Linked DNA regions of Homo sapiens. The protein of the gene in region 3 interacts with the protein of the main gene of each other region in a biochemical or structural test. Each region holds a gene or a part of one and is shown on either strand. Other genes may lie near its edges.

What was found.
Region 1: the proteins of HCLS1 (region 3) and FGR form a complex in vitro, tested with the Homo sapiens proteins (one study listed by BioGRID).
Region 2: the proteins of HCLS1 (region 3) and ACTR3 form a complex in vitro, tested with the Homo sapiens proteins (one study listed by BioGRID).

What each region holds. Positions count from the first base shown.
Region 1 is NC_000001.11:27,611,474-27,618,208, forward strand, and holds the end of FGR (tyrosine-protein kinase Fgr), read right to left. Parts: intron 5,824-6,735; coding exon 5,720-5,823; intron 5,534-5,719; coding exon 5,384-5,533; intron 4,372-5,383; coding exon 4,216-4,371; intron 4,141-4,215; coding exon 3,961-4,140; intron 3,454-3,960; coding exon 3,377-3,453; intron 3,111-3,376; coding exon 2,957-3,110; intron 1,878-2,956; coding exon 1,746-1,877; intron 1,650-1,745; coding exon 1,441-1,649; 3' UTR 591-1,440; downstream 1-590. UniProt on the Homo sapiens protein: Non-receptor tyrosine-protein kinase that transmits signals from cell surface receptors devoid of kinase activity and contributes to the regulation of immune responses, including neutrophil, monocyte, macrophage and mast cell functions, cytoskeleton remodeling in response to extracellular stimuli, phagocytosis, cell adhesion and migration.
Region 2 is NC_000002.12:113,949,015-113,956,127, forward strand, and holds part of ACTR3 (actin-related protein 3), read left to right. Parts: intron 1-2,464; coding exon 2,465-2,557; intron 2,558-2,705; coding exon 2,706-2,831; intron 2,832-6,608; coding exon 6,609-6,692; intron 6,693-7,113. UniProt on the Homo sapiens protein: ATP-binding component of the Arp2/3 complex, a multiprotein complex that mediates actin polymerization upon stimulation by nucleation-promoting factor (NPF).
Region 3 is NC_000003.12:121,630,848-121,636,965, reverse strand, and holds the end of HCLS1 (hematopoietic lineage cell-specific protein), read left to right. Parts: intron 1-476; coding exon 477-532; intron 533-1,161; coding exon 1,162-1,231; intron 1,232-2,547; coding exon 2,548-2,759; intron 2,760-3,794; coding exon 3,795-3,899; intron 3,900-4,402; coding exon 4,403-4,634; intron 4,635-4,781; coding exon 4,782-4,865; intron 4,866-4,983; coding exon 4,984-5,120; 3' UTR 5,121-5,567; downstream 5,568-6,118. UniProt on the Homo sapiens protein: Substrate of the antigen receptor-coupled tyrosine kinase. Plays a role in antigen receptor signaling for both clonal expansion and deletion in lymphoid cells. May also be involved in the regulation of gene expression.

The DNA.
Region 1 (6,735 bases), on a different chromosome or scaffold from region 3:
CAGGGTCCTCCTTAGCAAAGAGTCAATGCTTTGCAGAGTCAATGCTCAGTAATGATTTGCCAATTGCTGCAGTGATTCCCAGCTCCCAGATTCCTTCTCTGTCCATTCCCTTAGTAAGTCAGATGGTCAACAAACATTTTCTGATGGGAGAGGTGGGAATCTTTATTCCCTGCTCCCCTTGTTTCCACACGGAGGCATGTCAGCTTCCAGAGTTTCTCTCAGGGGAACGAGGGAGTGGGAAGATTCATCATCGCGCAGGTGCACTGCAGATTGTTCAGCATCCCTGAACCCTACCTGTAGGATCCAAACAAATCAAACTGCCTTCAAACCTCTCCAAAAGCTCCCCTGGGGGCAAAACTCCCCTAATGAGATCCAGTGAGTTAGACTAACCCTCAGGCCTCTTCTCTCTCCTCCCCTCTCTTCTGTCCTCTTTTGGAGAGTCTGACAGCTCCAGAGGGTCCACTGTGGTCTTCCTCCCTGCCCTGGCAAAGGAGGCCTAAGGTTGTCCCATTGCGCCTGTGATGAATGGCAAATCTGATGAACTCAGATAAAGAATTAGCAAACCTATTATACACAGATTGAAGGCCATATCAGCAACGAAGGGGACATTTTAATGTATCTTCAGCTGCTTGTCTTCTAAACTCACGTGCAGATGAGCAGTGGGACTCTGGGTGTTCTAAAACTCCACACCTTGGATGCCCCGTGCTTGGTAGGCATTAGGGCCCTCTCCAGCTTCCCCTGCTGCTGCCTGTAGCCATATCTGTCCGTTCACCCCCTATTGACCACCCCCGCTCCCAAAGGAAGGTTCAAGGGTATTTCATGGTTTGAGGATTCATATTGTCATTTTACTTATTTACAGAATCAATAAACCAACACATACACACTATTCAGAGAGGTGGGAAGTGCTCTGCAACCTTCTCCCTCAAACCTGGGCCCAGACCCCAGTCCTGGACCACTGCATCCACCCAGCAGGAAAGGGGTCCAGCCAAGACTTTTCCTGACTTTGTAACTTACAGACACAAGAGAATAGAGGGTAGAAGGGAAATTCTTGGCACCTGGACTAGAGTGAGATAAAAGGAGAGTAGGAAAGCAGTGATAGGAGAGAAGTGAGGGAGGTACATACAGTTTTATAAATAACTAGACAAGGTCTGAGCACTTTGGGTGGGGATGGAGTGAGAAAGGCTACAGGCATGTAGGGGCCTAAGTGGAAAAGGAAGAAATAGTGCTTGGGGCCAGAGCGGATGAGAGATCAGCTCTGGGCCTCCTTTTGCCCCATCTGTAAAACAAGTAGGTTGCCCTAGGTGGTGTCAGAGCAGCCACGTCCTCGGTGATGCTAGGACTCTATGGGGTTCTAAGCCAGCCTGGGGGCTTTGGAAGAACAGCTCTGGGGATTGGCAAGGACTGGTGGCCACCGCCAGAGAGGGTTGATGCCCGGACAGGCTATGTCTGATCCCCGGGCTGGTACTGTGGTTCAGCGGAGGTGAAGTAGTCCTCCAGGAAGGACTGCAGGTACTCGAAGGTAGGCCTCTCCTCCGGGTCCAGACGCCAGGTCTGTTCCATGGCCTCGTACAGGGATGCTGGGCAGCCTGGAGGGCACGGCATGTGGTAGCCCTGCTCCACCTGTTCCAACACTTCCCGTTTATTCATGCCTGAAGGATGGGTCTCTGTCAGTCAAAGGGACAGCCAGGTGGAAGCCCTTCCCCGTGACCATCCCCCACCCCAGCCCTACCCCTGGCGAGGCAAACCTGGGTAGGGGATTCGGCCCTTGGTGATGAGCTCAGTGAGCAGGATCCCAAAGGACCACACGTCTGACTTGATGGTGAATCTGCCAAAGAGGGCAGCTTCTGGGGCTGTCCACTTGATGGGGAACTTGGAACCTGGAGAAGATGGGGGAGCAGGGAAAGTTAGTGAGGGGGTCCCTGGAAACAGCTGGATTAAGAGAATGGGGTCTGGGCGCAGTGGCTCACGTCTGTAATCCCAGCACTTTGGGAGGCCAAGGCAGGCGGATCACTTGAGGTCAGGAGTTTGAGACCAGCCTGGCCAACATGGCGAAACCCTGTCTCTACTAAAAATACAAAAATTAGCCGGGCATGGTGGCGGGTGCCTGTAATCCCAGCTACTAGGGAGGCTGCGGCAGGAGAATTGCTTGAACCTGGGAGGCTTCAATAACCTGAGATCGCACCACTGCACTTCAGCCTGGGTGACAGTGAGACTCCATCTCAAAAAAAAAAAAAAAAAAAAAAAAGAGACAGAGAGAGAATGGGGACTCTAGGGATGAGGATTTCGGGGATCCTGAGCACAAGGGTCTCTGGGCATAGTAGAAAGGACATGGTATCTAGTCAACACCTACTATGTGTCTAGTATAGTGATGGGCACTTTCCAAAAATCGCAATAATTCTTATCCTAATAACGGCCAATACTTGGCTAGCCTTTCCTGTGTGCCAGACACTGTTTTAAGTGATATGCATGCATTAACTCATTTAACCCTCCCAAAACCCCCATGAGATAGAGACTCATTTTACAGACGAGGAAACGGAGACACTGAGTAGTTAGGTAACTTGCCCAGATCACAGAGTTAATACCTGGCTGGGATTCATACTCAGGCATTCTGGCTACAGAATTCCCACTGTTACACGCCATTGTCTTTCATTCAAGAATTATAGCTGTGCCTGTCACATAGCAGGTGCCTGGTAAACATCTGCTGACTTCCTGTTATCTGAATATTGTCACTTTACAGAAGAGAAACGGCAGCTCCCAGAGGTTAGGTGACTTGCCCAAGGCCACATGGCTGGTAAGTGGCCGACCTGGGATTTGAGCCCAGAATTGCCTCTCATACTACATCAGGATGGGGCGACTCGGGCGACCTGGAGTGAGGAAGGGTTCCTGAGTGCGTGGGGCCCCATGGAAGTCCCTTGTTGCATGGGGAGCTCTTGGAAGGTGGGGTGAAGCAGGGCACCTTGGCAGGGGTTGTACTCATCGTCCTTGATGAGACGCGCCAAGCCAAAGTCTGCGATCTTGCACGCCAGCCGCTCCCCAACCAGGATGTTGGCTGCCCTCAGGTCGCGGTGAATGTAGTTCATGCGTTCCATGTAGGCCATGCCCTCAGCTACCTGGGGGACCATAGTGTGGAGAGATGGGAGCTCATGTGGACTCACAACACCGTGGCCTGTTTGAGGGGTGAGGGACCATTTGAAAAACCCACTTTCCAGAGGGGGAGACTGAGGCCCAGAAAGAGAGGCAGTACCTCTCAGGCACAGCTGGAGGCACAGCTGATGCAGGGGGCGGGGCCGCCCTCCCAGGCGTTTGAAGGGACAGAGAATTTGTGAACAGTTAATAGGTGGGAGGTCCGGGAGGTAAAGGCTGCTGGCCCAGTTACCTGGGCTGCCATGTCCACCAATTGGGGCAGCCTCAAATCCTGGCCCTCTGGGTTCTTGAGAAAATCCAGCAAGCTGCCTGGGAAGAAGCCAGAAAGTCAGCGGCAAAGCCCTACCCCGGGCCCCAGCCCCTCCTCCTCTCGCTTGACCCCGCCCCTCAGCCCCTCCCACCTGGACCCGCCCCTCACTTAGGACCCCGCGGGTGCCTCAACCCCTCACTTGTCTCGTCCTGGCCCTGCTGCCAGACACGGACTCTGCCCACATCTCGTTTCTTCTGTTCCTTGGTGTTCCGGACACGACCCACCCAGACTCCGCCCCAGACCCTCCCTCATTCCCGATTCTGCCTTCGTTAGCCCAAGCCCTACCCGCCTAACACCGGAGGCACCGCCCCCCTCCCCAGCTCCCTAGTGGTCTCACTCGGCCCGGCTCCCACCTCAGCCCTCCAGTCGTTTTACACACCTGGTCCCTTAGTGGGACTCTGCCCATTGTCCCTTGTCCCTCACAGATCGCGTCCCAGGTCCCACGCCTGAAAACTCCCCTCTTAACTTCACCCCGAATCCCGCCCGACCAGGCTCCGCCTCCTGACCGTGACACATGAACTCGGTCACGATGTAGATGGGCTCCTCCGACACCACGGCGTACAGCTGCACCAGCTTGTCGTGCCGCAGCAGCTTCATGACCTGCGCCTCCTCCAGGAAGGCCTTCGGGGACATGGTGCCCGGCTTCAGCGTCTTCACCGCCACCTTAGTGCTGCCGTTCCACGTGCCTGCTCGGAGGCTGTCTTGTCAGGACCCTCTCCCCCGAGCCCAGGCCCTCGTCCCGGCCCCCGGGAGCTCCGTACCCAGCCACACATCCCCGAAGCAGCCGGTGCCCAGCCGGCGCTCCAGCGTGATGGAGCTGCGGCTGATCTCCCAGGCGTCCTTGGCCAGGCCCAGCGTCTGCGGCTTCATGATGGTGCAGGGCGCGATGAGCAGGTTGCACAGCCCGTCATTCACCTCTAGGGGAGGGGTCATGAAGTAGAGTCACAGGTGGGCCAGGACACCCCCCTCCACTCCTTATCCTATCCCAGCCTGGTGCCAGACCCTAAGATCAGTTATAAGGAACTAGGCCCCAAGTGAGGTCACAGGCCAGGAAGAAAGGCAACCCGATCCACTAAATAGGGGAACATGTTGGTGCCCAAGGAAGGGGGTGGCACCCAGAGGGAGAGATGATCCCTGTAAGCCTTCTGTAAGGACTGGGGGCCTCCCATAGGAGGTAGCCTCCAGCTGGGCCTTGAAGGATAAGGTGGGATTCTCACAGGTGGAAATGGGGTTGGGATTCCAGGCAAAGGTGTGGACATGAGGCCCACGGTCTTCCGTGGACCTCATCCTTGGCATAACCAATCAAGGCAGAAACGTGGGCATTGACTCCTGCCTTCCCTTCACCCCCACAGCCAATTCTCCACCAAGTCAGGCCTATTCTGCCTCCTACCCAGCTTCAGAATCGTCTGCTTCATCTTTACTCCACTGCCACCGATTTAGTCTGGCCTCCACCACCTCTCACCTGGACAACAGCCACTGCCTTCTAATGGACCCCTCACTCTGCCTTGGCCCCTGGCATCCAAGCTCCACCAGCAGCCAGAGTTTCTCACAAAAGTGAGACCAGCCTCTGTCACCCCCTGCTCAGGGCCCTGTGATGATGGCTCCCTGTCTGCCCACAGGGCAGTCCTGGTGCCTTGGTGGGGCATTCAGGCGGCACAAACACTCCATCAAGTTTCCACAAATTGAGGCCTTGAGGCAAGAAACTGGCCAATGCCTTGCTCAGTCATTAGGGGGTGCTGCTTGGTGAAGGACTGCTTTCCTCCAGAAGCTCACAGAGCTGGATCCTGGGCTGGCAGACCCCATCCTTGGGTTCTGGTTTCCGTCTGGCCAATACTGCTTGGTAGTCCCTTCCCTTCTCTGGGCCTCAGTTCCCCCATCTGGACAATGCTTCAGTTGGTTGGTTCAGGGATCTGAGGCCCCTGCCCTCACCCATGTAGTGCTGCACCAGCTCCTGCACCGAGTTGAACTGAACCCGTGTGGTGATGTAGTAGCCGCCCATGTCCAGTTTGCGGATCTTGTAATGCTTCACATGATCGCCTCTGGTCTGATCCCAGTCCCGGATGGACAGGGAGTAGGCACCTGTGGAGAGGATCACTTTTGATCTGCTGTTCTCCTCTGCCCTAGTCTGGGAGCTGGGAGAGGCCCGACAGCAGCATCCCTAGGACCTGGTCCCAGTCTTGGCCTTAACCCAAGCAGCCTACCGCTCCTAGCCCTACCCCAATGGCTGGGCCTCCCAGTCGCCTTGGGGCGTGGCACCACCCCTACCTTTGGTGGTCTCGCTTTCCCGAATGAGAAAGGCCCCCTGGGGGTTGCCTGGTGAAAGCAGCTGCCTCTCTGCATCCTTTCTCCCAATCTTTCCAAAGTACCACCTGTTGGGAAAGGCAGGCAAGAGTCAGGTACGCTCTGCTCAAACCTCACCTCAGCCTCCTGCACAGTCACCTCACAAGCCAAGACTCCATTTTCCCCATGTGTAAAATGGGGCTGGTACACCTGCTTCACATCCTGGCTGGGAGGGTTACAGAGAAGGGGAGTGTAAAATGCCTGGCACACAGTAGGTGCCCTGCAAAGGTTAGCATCTCTTCTCGTTAGGTTTCTCTTGAATTAAAATTGCTACAATCACAGTCATCAGGGTGCCATGGAGCCTCAGTTCATCTCACTGTAGCCCTTCTGTGCACTCATTTTACAGATGAGGAAGTTGAGGCTCAGAGAGGGAAAGTGACCTGTCCACAGGCTGGCTAATGAGCTCCACCTAAAATCCTCTGCCGCTCTCCCTAGTTCTTTTTTCACCACTCCAGTAATCAGATCACTCAGATCCTTCTCCCACCTCCACCTCCAAACTCTTTCCTCCTTTGGCCTCCAGAGCAGCACAGTCTCCTGCTTCTCTTCTCTCTGGCTGCTCCCGCCCCGGCTACTGCTCTTCCTGCACTCTCTTAGACTTGGATGTTGTCCTAAGTCTAAACTTCAACCTCAGGCCTCAATCACTCCTCTCCCTTGGGGATTCTTTCTGGGATTGAACCGTAGCCCTAAACCAACTGTGCAGGTACAATGGGGGAGCTGAAGTGACCACAGGTGCCATAGAAGACTCAGATGATCATGAAACTGGCCTGTGGCCATCTTGGGTTGAATTAAAGGAGCCTCGTGTTTTCAAACCAAGGGTGGTGGAAGTCTCAGTGGACCCTGGGAAGGTCAGTCCGCCCCTGGGTACTAGGCACAGTTCAGGAAACAGGGGAAGGCATTGGCAAGTGGTGTGTCCAGGAGGGCAGGCAGGAGGGGGACGGAGG
Region 2 (7,113 bases), on a different chromosome or scaffold from region 3:
TCACTTTGATAACATTAAATCTCTTTTCATTGTATGCGCAGCCTGTAAATAATTTAGAACTAATCTTAAAAACTGGAAAAAGGCAGGGCGTGGTGGCTCACACCTATAATCCCAGCACTTTGGGAGGCTGAGGCAGGCGGATCACCTGAGGTCAGGAGTTCGAGATCAGCCTGGCCAACATGGTGAAACCCCGTCTCTACTAAAAACACAAAAATTAGCCGGGCGTGGTGGCGGACGCTTGTAATCCCAGCTACTCGGGAGGCTGAGGTAGGAGAATTGCTTGAACCCAGGAGGCAGAGGTTGCAGTGAGCCAAGATTGCGCCACTGCACTCCAGCCTGGGTGTCAGATCGAGACTCGGTCTCAAAAAAAAAAAAAAAAGAAAAAAAAAAAGAAAAAATTGACACATGCCTAATAATTATCAATACAGTTATAGACTCAGTTTAATAAATAAAGGAATAATGTCTCTCAACTAGGACAACCTAATGATAAAAATGAATGGCTGAGGAGATATACAATACTTGTTTGTTTTTCACTAATTAGAGCTAGATTTTGATTATTTATTTAGAGACAGAGTCTCTCTCTGTCACCCAGGCTGGAGTGCAGTGGTGTGATCATAACTCAGTGTAACCTCGAATTCCTAGGGTCAAGCAATCCTTTTTCCTCAGCCCTCTCAAGTAGCTGGAACTACAGGTGTGTGCCACCATGCCTAGCTAGTTTTTAAATTTTTTGTAGAGACAGGGTCTCGCTATGTTGCCCAGGCTGGTGTCAAACTCTGGGTCTCAAGCAATGGTCCTGCCTTGGCCTCCCAAAGCACTGGGATTATAGGTGTGAGTCACCATGCCCAGCTTCAAGTTGTTTTTTGTTTTTGTTTAAGTTAGTTTTTTAAAAAGTATGTTTTTCTTGAGTGCCAGCTGTTTGGAAATAGTAAGTTTATTTTGACTATGGTATATCATCGTTTGAATATATAGCTGATGTTTGTTATTCAAAGTAGATGTGCCAAAAAGTTCTTGAGAGCGCTGAATTAGTGAACACTGAGCTAGCTATTGCTCCTAGGGGAAATACAGTATTAGGTTTCTTTGAGCCTCTGGTAACATTTTTGTTATCCCATTAACATATACCCTTGTTTCATGTGTGTTTCTTTTTAAAGGCACTGCATTTAGTATATCATTTTAGTATATTCATTTATATTCAATAGCACTAGAACACATGTCTGAACAAAGCTATCTAACTTGCTTTTTCTCTGTAAGACACATCACAGCCTCCTTGTGTTTACTAGCCAGCACTTGAGCAGTATGCTTGGGGGCCATTTTAAATAATGAAATCACTAACAAAAATATGAAAACCGTGCCACTAAATAGAACTGTGAAAAGGACACTTGTTTATAGTATGAGAGCTGAAACTAGATAGCAGAGTATCATCTTGTTCAACCTCAATGGGGAATGTGCACATCAGTGGACTCAAATTTTTGTTGCTCTACACGTGCATGTCCATGAATAACCATATTTTGATTTGGGGAGTAACAAATATGTTTTAGCGATTAGGTAAATTCACAAATATGGAATCATGAATAATGAGATTAGACTACATTTATTTATTTCATCCCCTATTGATGGACTTAACGGGTTTTTCCTCTTAGAAACAAGGCTATAGTAAATATGCATATGTAATAGCATACATGTTTGGGGAGTTTCTTCAGAGTTTGTTGTAAGAAGTGGAGTTACTGGTATGTGCATTTAAAATTTTATTAGCTATTTGTATTAGTCCGTTTTCATACTGCTAATAAAGACATACCTGAGACTGGGCAATTTATAAAAGAAAGAGGTTTAATTGGACTTATGGTTCCACGTGGCTGGGGAAGCCTCACAATCATGGCAGAAGGCAAGGAGGAGCAAGTCCTGTCTTACATGATGGCAGCAGGCAAAGAGAGAATGAGGAAGACGCAAAAGCAGAAATCCCTGATAAAACCATCAGACCTTGTGCAACTTATTCACTCCATGAGAACAGTATGGGGGAAACCACCCTCATGATTCAATTCTCTCTCACCAGGTCCCTCCCACAACACGTGGAAATTATGGGAGTACAATTCAAGATGAGATTTGGGTGGGGACACAGAGCCAGACCATGTCACTATGTTACTATTGCCAAATTATTCTCCATAGTGGTTACATCAGTGTATACTCTCACAGCGTTATATGAAAGTTTCCATTTACCCAGATTTTTGCCAGCTCATAGTATATGTATGACTTTACATGTTTGCTATTCTGATAGTTATAAAATGGTATATATCATCATAATTTTGAGTTTTCTCTGATTTCAGTGTCTTCAATCTGAATCTGTTAGAGACCAGTATTAGTGGTTTCTAAAAGGCCTTTTGTTTTTGAACTGAAAACTTTGTTTAACCTTTTATTGTGATATTTGTCAGTAGTGATATGATCTCTATTATATATCCAACTTATTTTTCAGTTTGCTAATCCAGACTTTACACAACCTATCTCAGAAGTTGTAGATGAAGTAATTCAGAATTGTCCTATTGATGTCAGACGTCCTCTCTACAAGGTATTTATAGCAAAATTGTTATTCAAGGTCTTACTTTAAAAAAACTTAAACACCTCTCATAAAAAGGATATAATAGCATTTCAGTACTATATATTATATCTTTAAACTTTTCTCTTTTTAAATATTATATTTATTTTCTCTCCACTAGAATATTGTCCTCTCTGGAGGTTCAACCATGTTCAGGGACTTTGGACGTCGCTTGCAAAGAGATTTGAAAAGAACTGTAGATGCCCGGCTGAAATTAAGTGAGGAATTGAGTGGTGGTAGATTGAAGGTTGGTTTTCCCAATTATTGGTGAGAAGGTTGAGGGTGCCTTCCTTGATTAGGATGAGAAATATTTGCCAGCATTCACTCTGATTTAGAAAAATAAGAGGAACCTGTCAGGTATTCTAATGGAAATGGTTAATGTTATAGATTTATGTCTGTGATATTCTGGATCATTTGATTCTTCTAGGATATTGTCTGTATTTCTGGAAAATAATTCTTAGTAATACCTGTGGAAAGACTTTTTTTTTAAATACCTCTCTCATAGATAATTAATATAGTAGATTTCTTTGCATACACCAACAATCAAATTAATTATGGATCCACAAAATGTTTTATACTATAGAAGGACAGCAAAGCTGAGTTGAGATTGATGCCATTGTTGAGTAGTCAAGCCTGCTCTCAAAAACTGACTTTAGCTCCCACATAGCAACCTCAAAGTGTGCAGTCAAATCGGTGGTTTAATAAAGTAACCTTTGTATTACATGTCCTGGACCTTTAGGCTTGAGGTTAAAAAAAATCAAAATTAATTTAAAATTCTTAGATGTCTACTTTCTATATTTAGAGATAGATTCTTCATTTTTTTCATCCTTGTTAAATATTGAAGCAGAACGTTGATTTAGAGGAATGATATGGCTTTTTTCAAAGCTGTTTGAAAAAAGGTATTTCATGTGAATAAAATACCTTCTGCTTGGAAGATTACCAAGAATGAGGACTTTATCTGAGACTTCCATAATCATTCAGAATTACTTAAAAGTAAAGCACAGCACTCTAGGGTTTGCTGATTGTTGAGAAATTGCATGATGGCTGACTGTTGTCAGTGCCTATATTTTGATTATCTTGAGTAAACCTATCCCTAGGAATGCAGTAAAAAGTATATGTTTTGGGTGGAAGGCAAAATATTGAACTCTGTCCCTATAATGTCATGACTTCACACTTCAGGAAGTCTACTCAATAGACTTTTAAAATGTTGTGTTTGCTTTTGCATCCCCTTCCCAACCAACCAAACCACCAGCCCACCCCCATTCATCCATTCATTTGCCCATCCGTCTACTCCCCTTACCCACATATCTATCTACCCTACCTCCTACCTAAAAAAGAAGTCATTGGGTTTTGCAAGTATAAATTCTCTGTACTGAGAATCCTACTAACCACATTGATTATGTGAATGAACATAGTGCATGTTCTGGTTTTTTTGTTAGAATACTTAAAAGATTGAAGTTGATTGTCCTAATGGTATGGTTATGGATGTATTAAAGTAGCTGTTTAGTTTTTAATAACTCATTACAGATATATAAGTACAAAACAATGCTGTATGTTTCTGAGTATAGTATTTTAAAAAAGTGAGATTGTTTAACATTTTTAAGCTCTTTTTACACTTGTAAATAAGAAATAAATTTACCCAGTGATCAGTACCGTATCGACATATTGAAAGAAACAGATTGGGTGTCCCTTTTTTGAATTGCTTCATACCAGAAGTGTTGCAGGTTTTGAGTTTTTCTGGATTTTGGAGTATTTGCATTATATACTGGTTCAACATCCTTAATCCAAAAATCTGAAATTCTGAGCATTTCCTTTGAACATCATGTTGGTGCTCAAAAAGTTTTTGGATCTTGGAGCATTTTGGATTTTCAGACTTGGGATGCTCATCATGTATAGGAAAAACCTTGTGTTTTGGAGGACTCTGCCTTCTTCACCTTAGTTTTACTTGCTAGTAACTTTTATAGATCTTAATAGCATGCCTTTATCTATCTATCTCTGGCTTTATTTTCCTTCAGTCTGTAATTTTTAATGGCAACCAAACAGTTTTGAAAAAAGCCATATCATTCTGTTTCTATAAATAGGTGTGTGTACACACACACACACACTAAATTGTAGATATGATGGTTCATTATCCCCAAACATTTTAGTATATTTCTAAAATCAAGAACATATTACAATTATCAAAATCATGAAATTAACCTTGATCCAGTGTTATCTAGTTATAGAACTGATTCTAATTTTACCGGTTGTTTCACTAATGTCCCTTATAACAAAAGGAAAACAAAATACCTTCTTCCCCCTTATCCAGGATCCAATCAAGGATTGCATGTTTCATTTACTTATTGTGTTGCTTCAGTCTGTTACATACTCAATGTTTTTTGTCTTTCATGAATGAATGTGACATTTTTGAAGAGTACAGCCATTTATTTTGTAGCATATCCTTCAGCTTGGGTTTGTTTAATATTTCTGCTTGAGTAGGTTCAGATTATGTACTTTTGGCAGTGATGCCACAGAATTGATATTGTATCATTTTTAGTGCATTGTATCAGTAGACACATGATAGAATTTGTCCTGTGTGTGAATTTTGAGCTTTTGGTTGAAGTTGTGTCTGCCAGGTTTTTTCACTATAAAGTTATTATGTTTTCCTTTATATTTAATAAGAATCTAATGAGGAGACACTTTCAGACTATCCTGTTTCTCTTTTAAGTTTCAGTCACTAGTTTTTAGCATCCATTGTGATTCTTCCCTAAAACAGTTATTACTGTGGTAGTTGCTAAATGGAGTTTTGCAATTTCTGTCATTCCTTCTATGTTTTTAAGACTTGTTTTACTATAAGCAAGAGTTTTCCCTTCTCCCACATTCATTTATTCTTTTAGTAATATCTATATGAACTCCTGATTTCTCATTTTGTGGTCTATATCTTTAATATCACTGTAATATCATAATATCAGTAATACCACTCATCATTAATTTTAATCCCACATTTTTTTTTTTTTCAGATTTGACCAGTGGGAGTTATTCAAATGGCTCTTAGGTTTTTTTTTTTGATGCAGCCACATCTTTTTTTTTGCCTACTTCTGTACTTCCCGGCACAGCAAGGTGTTTCAGGCTGATCTTGTACTTTCTCTTTTCTGGCCCTGGAATCAGCCCTTTTTTTCTCCTTTTCTTTCTTCAAGACACCCTTGTCTTATTCCTGTTAGTGGAGAACGTTACTAAGAAACCAAGCTTTGTGCTCATTGCTGTTGGGGTATCACTGAGTCTAGGCCTTCTCAGTGATTAGAGCTAGGGGTGTGTGTGTGTTTATACATCTATATCTAATTCTCTACATAAATTAAAACCATGAATTTTTACAGACGTCTCCAGTTATAGAAGGTTCACTCTAGTTTTCTGCCCTTCCATATTGTAATGCCCTTCTCTGACAGTGAGAAACCTGGCTCCTATTATCTATAATATGTTTATGTTTTTGCTTAATCCTGGAATATGTATATGATAGTTTCAGAATTGTTAATCCACACCACTGTGAAAAATAGACCCAAAACTAGAATTCAATATTTGCTTATATTTTATCTTCAGCCTGAAGGCTTATAAGATTCAAAATACTATGCTCACAAGTTGCTTGTGTTAGTCCCTTTCCTCACCTTAGTGTGCTTATGTTTGAAAAAAGTACAATTAGTTTAATTTGTTTTTGTTGTACTTTGTTTTGCCCCAACCTCCCCTTCTTTTAAGGTGTTATTTTTTAGTATGTAAAACACTAACATTTAGATTCTTAAAGTCAGAACTGTATAAAACATGTGCTCATTGTTATTTCCCTTCCATTTATTCTGCTCTGTTCCCTCCCTGTCTCTTCCACAGTGTTCCCAACCCCTTTCCTCTGAGACAGCCAATCTCAATTGTTTCTGGTTTGTAAGATACCACCTGAATTTAGTACAGATATTATTTTTGTATATGTACATTTAAGGTTAAATGACACAGAAGTTGTTATTTGAATTTACTATGAAGATGATCATACTATGTCTTTCTTTAGCCAAAACCTATTGATGTACAAGTCATTACACACCACATGCAGCGATATGCAGTTTGGTTTGGAGGATCAATGCTGGCTTCCACGGTGAGTGTGATGAAGCTTACTTTTATTTTATTTTATCATTATTATTTTATTTATTTTTGAGGTGGACTTTCGCTCTTGTCACCCAGGCTGGAGTGCAATGGCATGATCTTGGCTCACTGCAACCTCCACCTCCTGGGTTAAAGTGATTCTCCTGCCTCAGCCTCCCAAGTAGCTGGGACTACAGGCATGCGTCACCACACCTGGCTAATTTTGCATTTTTAGCAGAGACTGGGTTTCATCATGTTGGCTAGGTTACTCTTGAACTCCTGACCTTGGGATCTGCCCACCTTGGCCTCCCAAAGCAAAGTGTTGGGTTTACAGGTGTGAGCCACTGCTCCTGGCCTTTATTATTATTATTATTTTTTATTGAGATGAGGTCTTACTATGTTGGGCCAGGCTGGTCTCAAACTCTTGGGCTCAA
Region 3 (6,118 bases):
GAGAGGAAAACAGAAGGATTAAGAGCAGGGCCTAGGAGGGAGGTGAGAGAGAAGGGGGCGTTGAGGAAGGAATGAGGACAGACAAGCTGAGTGATGGTCAGAAGATGGTTTGCCATGAGTCTTAGAGGGATCTCTGCTGTCCTCACAGAGGATAAAGAGGTTTACTGCTTCCCTGGAACCCATACGGATGGCTGAAGTGCTCTCTGTATTTTTTCCTATTTCTTTTACATTTTTCCTTATCTGTTGCTTTCTGCTTTCCATGTTTCCCTACTTCCATCTTTGTCTTCTCCATTCGCTCCCAGATTTTTTCCCCATCTGTTTCCCTCTCTTCCCATCCATGCCTCCCTCTATCCTCTGATTCTCACATTTCCTCCTACATTTGTTTTCCACATTCCTGTTTTTCTTCCCACTGATTCTTCTCACCACCCATTCCCAGCATTTTGATCTCCTATAACTCAGAACTTTCTGTCCTGCAGATTATGCCAAGGGCTTTGGTGGCCAGTATGGAATCCAGAAGGACCGAGTGGATAAGGTAAAGCACCGGAACACCAATGTCTTAAGAAGAGTTCCCTAAGTTTAGGAAAGTGTGCAGAGAAGAGCGTGAAGAAGGCTGGGAGAGGGAGGGGACGGTGGTGCTGGGCACACAGAGCCTGTCCTGCTGGCGTCCTGCAGTCCCCACTGACTGCCCTCAGCATCTAAGGGGCATGTCTGCCAAAGCCTGAGCTTTGAGGACAGTGGGAGAGGCATACAGAGAGACAGGTAAACCGCCGGGAAAGGTCGTATTGGACTGGAAATTGTATTGATTTCTTGGCATTGCTTAACCCAATCTTAAGTCTCTTCCCACCCCATGCCACTGTCCTCCCTACACTAGTTCCTCCTCATGCATGAGCCAGGGGGCCCTGCTACATTCTAGGCAACTGGGCTTGGAGATGTGAGATTCTAAGGTCACTGAGCTGCTGAAAGGGGGAGCTGAACTCAGCACTTAAGAACTTCTTTACCCCCTCTCTACCACAAAACAACATTGGAACATGCTGTCCAGCTGTTGAGCATCCAATGGTTAGGGATACCTCTTATAGTGGCCCCCAACCCCCAATACTACCTCCAGGTCACCACTACCCTTGCCCCTCTCCCGCAACACACATGCTGTTCTCCTGCCTGCAGAGCGCTGTCGGCTTCAATGAAATGGAGGCCCCGACCACAGCTTATAAGAAGACGACGCCCATAGAAGCCGGTGAGGCTTAGTGATTCACTCTCCATGCACCTCACTTCCTTCTCCCTCATTCTTTTTCTTCCCCAGACTATATCCTCCATGCCTTTAACTACCTAGATTAGCTGAGTTAGACCTGATCCCTATCCTCATATTCCCAGATTCTGTCTTTCCTAGAAAAACCAGGTAAGGCGGAGCTCACATCTGTAATCCCAGCACTTTGGTGGCTAAAGTGGGAGGACTGCTTGAGCTCAGGAATTTAAGAACAGCTTGGACAACATGGGGAAACCTCATCTCTATAAAAAATACAAAAATTAGCCAGGCATGGAGGTGCACACCTATAATCCCAGCTACTTGGGAGGCTGAGGCAGGAGAATCACTTGAACCCAGGAGGCGGAAGTCGGAGTGAGCTGAGATCATGCCACTCAACTCCAGCCTGGGTGACAGAGTGAGACGAAAGAAAGAGAGAGAGAGGAGAGAGAGGAGAGAGAGAGAGAGAGAGAGAGAGAGAGAGAGAGAGAAAAGGGAGAGAAGAGAGAGAGAGAGAGAAAGAAAGAAAAGAAAGAAAGAGAGAAAGTCAAGTGGATAGACAGAGTGACGTCGGGGAAGGAATCGGAGGCAGAGAACACAGTGTGGCTTGGGACAGGGGTGGGGTGGCATGGGAACATTGGTGAGGAACCACTTGGGAAGAACACACAGGGACAGGAGTTTCGGATGAGGTTGAGGATGAGTGGTGGCTTGAAGAAGGCATACAGATTTATGGAATATGGACAGGGGAGGATGCTTTTTGGAAGCCCAAAGTTTACAATTTAGAAAGGACACAAGTCAGCTGGGCATGGTGGCTCACACCTGTAATCCCAGCACTTTGGGATGCTGAAGTAGGATAATCACTTGAACCCAGGAGTTCAAGATGAGGCTGGGCAACACAGCAAGATCCCCTCTCTACAAAAAATACAAAAATTAGCTGGGTGTGGTGGTGCACATCTGTGGTCCCAACTACTCCAGAGGCTGAGGTAGGAGGATTGCTTGAGCCTGGGAGGTTGAGGCTGCAGTGTCCCATGACTGCACCACTGCACTCTAGCCTGGGCTGAGACCCTGTCTCAAGAAAAAAAAAAGACACGAGTCTTAGGTCGTATAGCCTGGCTTTATAAAAATCCAGGCTTCAGGGCTATGCCATCCTCCTATTATCCCTTGTTCCTCTATCGATACCTCTTTACCATCCTGTCCCACAAATCCCTCCTCCCGGATATTTAACTGATTCCCCTTCTTCCTTCAAGTGCCATGCCCTTCCCCACTCTCCAATCCAAGACAACCCTAATTTTTCTTGCCTGTGTCTGCAGCTTCTAGTGGTACCCGTGGGCTGAAGGCGAAATTTGAGTCCATGGCTGAGGAGAAGAGGAAGCGAGAGGAAGAGGAGAAGGCACAGCAGGTGGCCAGGAGGCAACAGGAGCGAAAGGCTGTGACAAAGAGGAGCCCTGAGGCTCCACAGCCAGTGATAGCTATGGAAGAGCCAGCAGTACCGGCCCCACTGCCCAAGAAAATCTCCTCAGAGGTGAGCGCCTGGCCCTCTGGGATCCACATCCAGGATCTCTTGCCCAGACAGGAGCCTAAGGGGTCCAAACCATTGGCAGAAAATAAGGCAAAGTCCTCCCCTGGGTTAGGCAAGGTCTGTTGTCTCTGTCTTTAGAAGACTTCAGTCTGACTGTAATTGGACCTCCTATCAGAATGTTAGAAAAAACCCTCAAGATTTACATAGTACAACAGAAAGCAAGTCACCAGCCAGCACAGCCAATTATTGCTGTAGGAACTATGAGGAAGGGGCCGTCACTTCAGGCTGGAGCCCATCTTGAGGGATGAGTTCCATTTGAATTGGCAGAGAGTGGGAGAGGGTGTTCCTGGTAAATGTAACAGTGAAGACATGCATGGTGTGGTGGCTCATGCCTGTAATCCTAGCACTTGAGGTGGCCAAGGTGAGAGGATCACTTGAAGCCAGGAGTTCTAGACCAACCTGGGCAACATAGTAAGAACCTATCGCTATAAAAACAATTAAAAAATTAGCTGGGCATGGTGGTGTGTGCCTATAGTCCCAGCTACTTGGGAGGCTTAGAGAGGAGGATTGTTTGAGCCCAAGAGTTTGAGGCTACAGTGAGCTATGATCTCACTGTGCTCCAGCCAGGGCAGCAGAGTGAGACCCTGTCTCAAAAAATGCATAAAATAAAATAAAAAGAATGAAGATGGGCCGAGCGTGGTGGCTCATGCCTGTAATCCCAGCACTTTGGGAGGTCAAGGCAGACAGATCACGAGGTCAGGAAGTCAGGAGTTCAAGACCAGCCTGACCAACATAGTGAAACCCTGTCTCTATTAAAAATACAAAAATTAGCCAGGCATAGTGGCGTGTGCCTGTAATCCCAGCTACTCAGGGGGCTGAGGCAGGAGAATCGCTTGAACCTGGGAGGCGGAGGTTGCAATGAGCTGAGATCGCACCACTGCACTCCAGCCTGGGCTACAGAGCGAGAGTCTATCTCAAAAAAAAAAAAGGAGTGAAGATGGAGGCTTGCTTACTTGAGAGATGCTTCATTTTCCACAGGCCTGGCCTCCAGTTGGGACTCCTCCATCATCAGAGTCTGAGCCTGTGAGAACCAGCAGGGAACACCCAGTGCCCTTGCTGCCCATTAGGCAGACTCTCCCGGAGGTAAGCAAACCCCCAAAGATTCTCTGCCCCCACCCCATCTTCTCGAGTCTTAGGAATGTGGGCTGTGCAGGGTGGCCAACCATCCTGGTTTGCCTTGCACTGTTCTGGTGTTAGCACTGAAGACCTTGCCTTCTGGGAAACTCCTCTGTCCTGGGCAAACTAGTATAGATGATTATCCTAGCTGTGGTAGCTCAACAATGTGCTCTTGCTTCAATGTTTTCTTGGTCTCCCAAAGAATCTGACTTGTTTTCTACTTCCCTCCCCTCACACCTTTTACATTCTCTTCCCATTGTCTCTGGAATGTGTTTTGGGTGGGTGGGTGTGGGAGGAGATTGAAGAATGAAGATGGATGAAAGGCTGTGTTCCCCAGGAGAGGCTGTTAGATGGAGGCAAGGGTAGAGGGGAGAAGAGGCAGGGTGGTGAAGGGCGGGGGATCTTATCAGTCCTCCATTGATTCCTCCTGGAAAGTGGAAGTCACAGTGCTCCACACTGTCTCTTCTCAGGACAATGAGGAGCCCCCAGCTCTGCCCCCTAGGACTCTGGAAGGCCTCCAGGTGGAGGAAGAGCCAGTGTACGAAGCAGAGCCTGAGCCTGAGCCCGAGCCTGAGCCCGAGCCTGAGAATGACTATGAGGACGTTGAGGAGATGGACAGGCATGAGCAGGAGGATGAACCAGAGGGGGACTATGAGGAGGTGCTCGAGCCTGAAGATTCTTCTTTTTCTTCTGCTCTGGCTGGTGAGTGATGGGAGGAGAAGCAGGAGAATTTGCTCATGTCCAGGGGAGGGTAAGAGGAAGAAGAATTTCTCTATTGCCCCAGTAGGATCTTTCTCTGTTTGCCTTCTTCATGTTGATGATCCCATGTTTGTGTTTCTCATTATGCAGGATCATCAGGCTGCCCGGCTGGGGCTGGGGCTGGGGCTGTGGCTCTGGGGATCTCAGCTGTGGCTGTATATGATTACCAAGGAGGTAGGTTGGGAGTGGCCCGAGGAGCCTGGTACATGGAGGCCCCTGATATAAGACAGGGGGACATGTGAAAAGAGATTCATGTCTGACCATTCTAATATCCCCTCAACTTTCTCCCCAGAGGGAAGTGATGAGCTTTCCTTTGATCCGGACGACGTAATCACTGACATTGAGATGGTGGACGAGGGCTGGTGGCGGGGACGTTGCCATGGCCACTTTGGACTCTTCCCTGCAAATTATGTCAAGCTTCTGGAGTGACTAGAGCTCACTGTCTACTGCAACTGTGATTTCCCATGTCCAAAGTGGCTCTGCCTCCACCCCCTCCCTATTCCTGCTGCAAATGTCTAACCAGATGAGGTTCTGGACAGACTTCCCTCTCCTGCTTCATTAAGGGCTTGGGGCAGAGACAGCATGGGGAAGGAGGTCCCCTTCCCCAAGAGTCCTCTCTATCCTGGATGAGCTCATGAACATTTCTCTTGTGTTCCTGACTCCTTCCCAATGAACACCTCTCTGCCACCCCAAGCTCTGCTCTCCTCCTCTGTGAGCTCTGGGCTTCCCAGTTTGTTTACCCGGGAAAGTACGTCTAGATTGTGTGGTTTGCCTCATTGTGCTATTTGCCCACTTTCCTTCCCTGAAGAAATATCTGAACCTTCTTTCTGTTCAGTCCTAAAATTCGAAATAAAGTGAGACTATGGTTCACCTGTATGCTGAGGTAAATAGTACTTTTTGTGTGGCCCTCATGGCCTCAAATCTTAAGGCTCCAACCTTTCCTCTTCCAGGCATATCCAGGAAACTTTCTCTTACCACTGCCAATTCCCCTGTACCCTAGATGTCAAAGACTAGGCCTTTTCCTTAGGCTGAACTTTTTTTTTTTTTGAGAAGGAGTTTTGCTCTGTCACCCAGGCTGGGGTGCCGCAGTGTGATCTCAGCTCACTGCAGCCTCCACTTCCTGGGTTCAAGAGATTCTCCTGCCTCAGCCTCCCGAGTACCTGCAACTACAGGCGTGCACCACCATGCCCGGCTAATTTTTGTATTTTTAGTAGAGATGGGGTTTCCCCATGTTGGCCAGGCTGATCTTGAACTCCTGACCTCAGATGATCGCCCCCCGCTTAGCCTCCCAAAGTGCTGGGATGACAGGCATAAGCCACTGCACCTGGCCTCCTTAGGCTGCATTTTAAACCCAGTCCAAAACAGATCAGCCTGAGCAATGGCTGGGCATGGTATTGTGGGCCTATAGCACCAGCTACTCAGTAGTC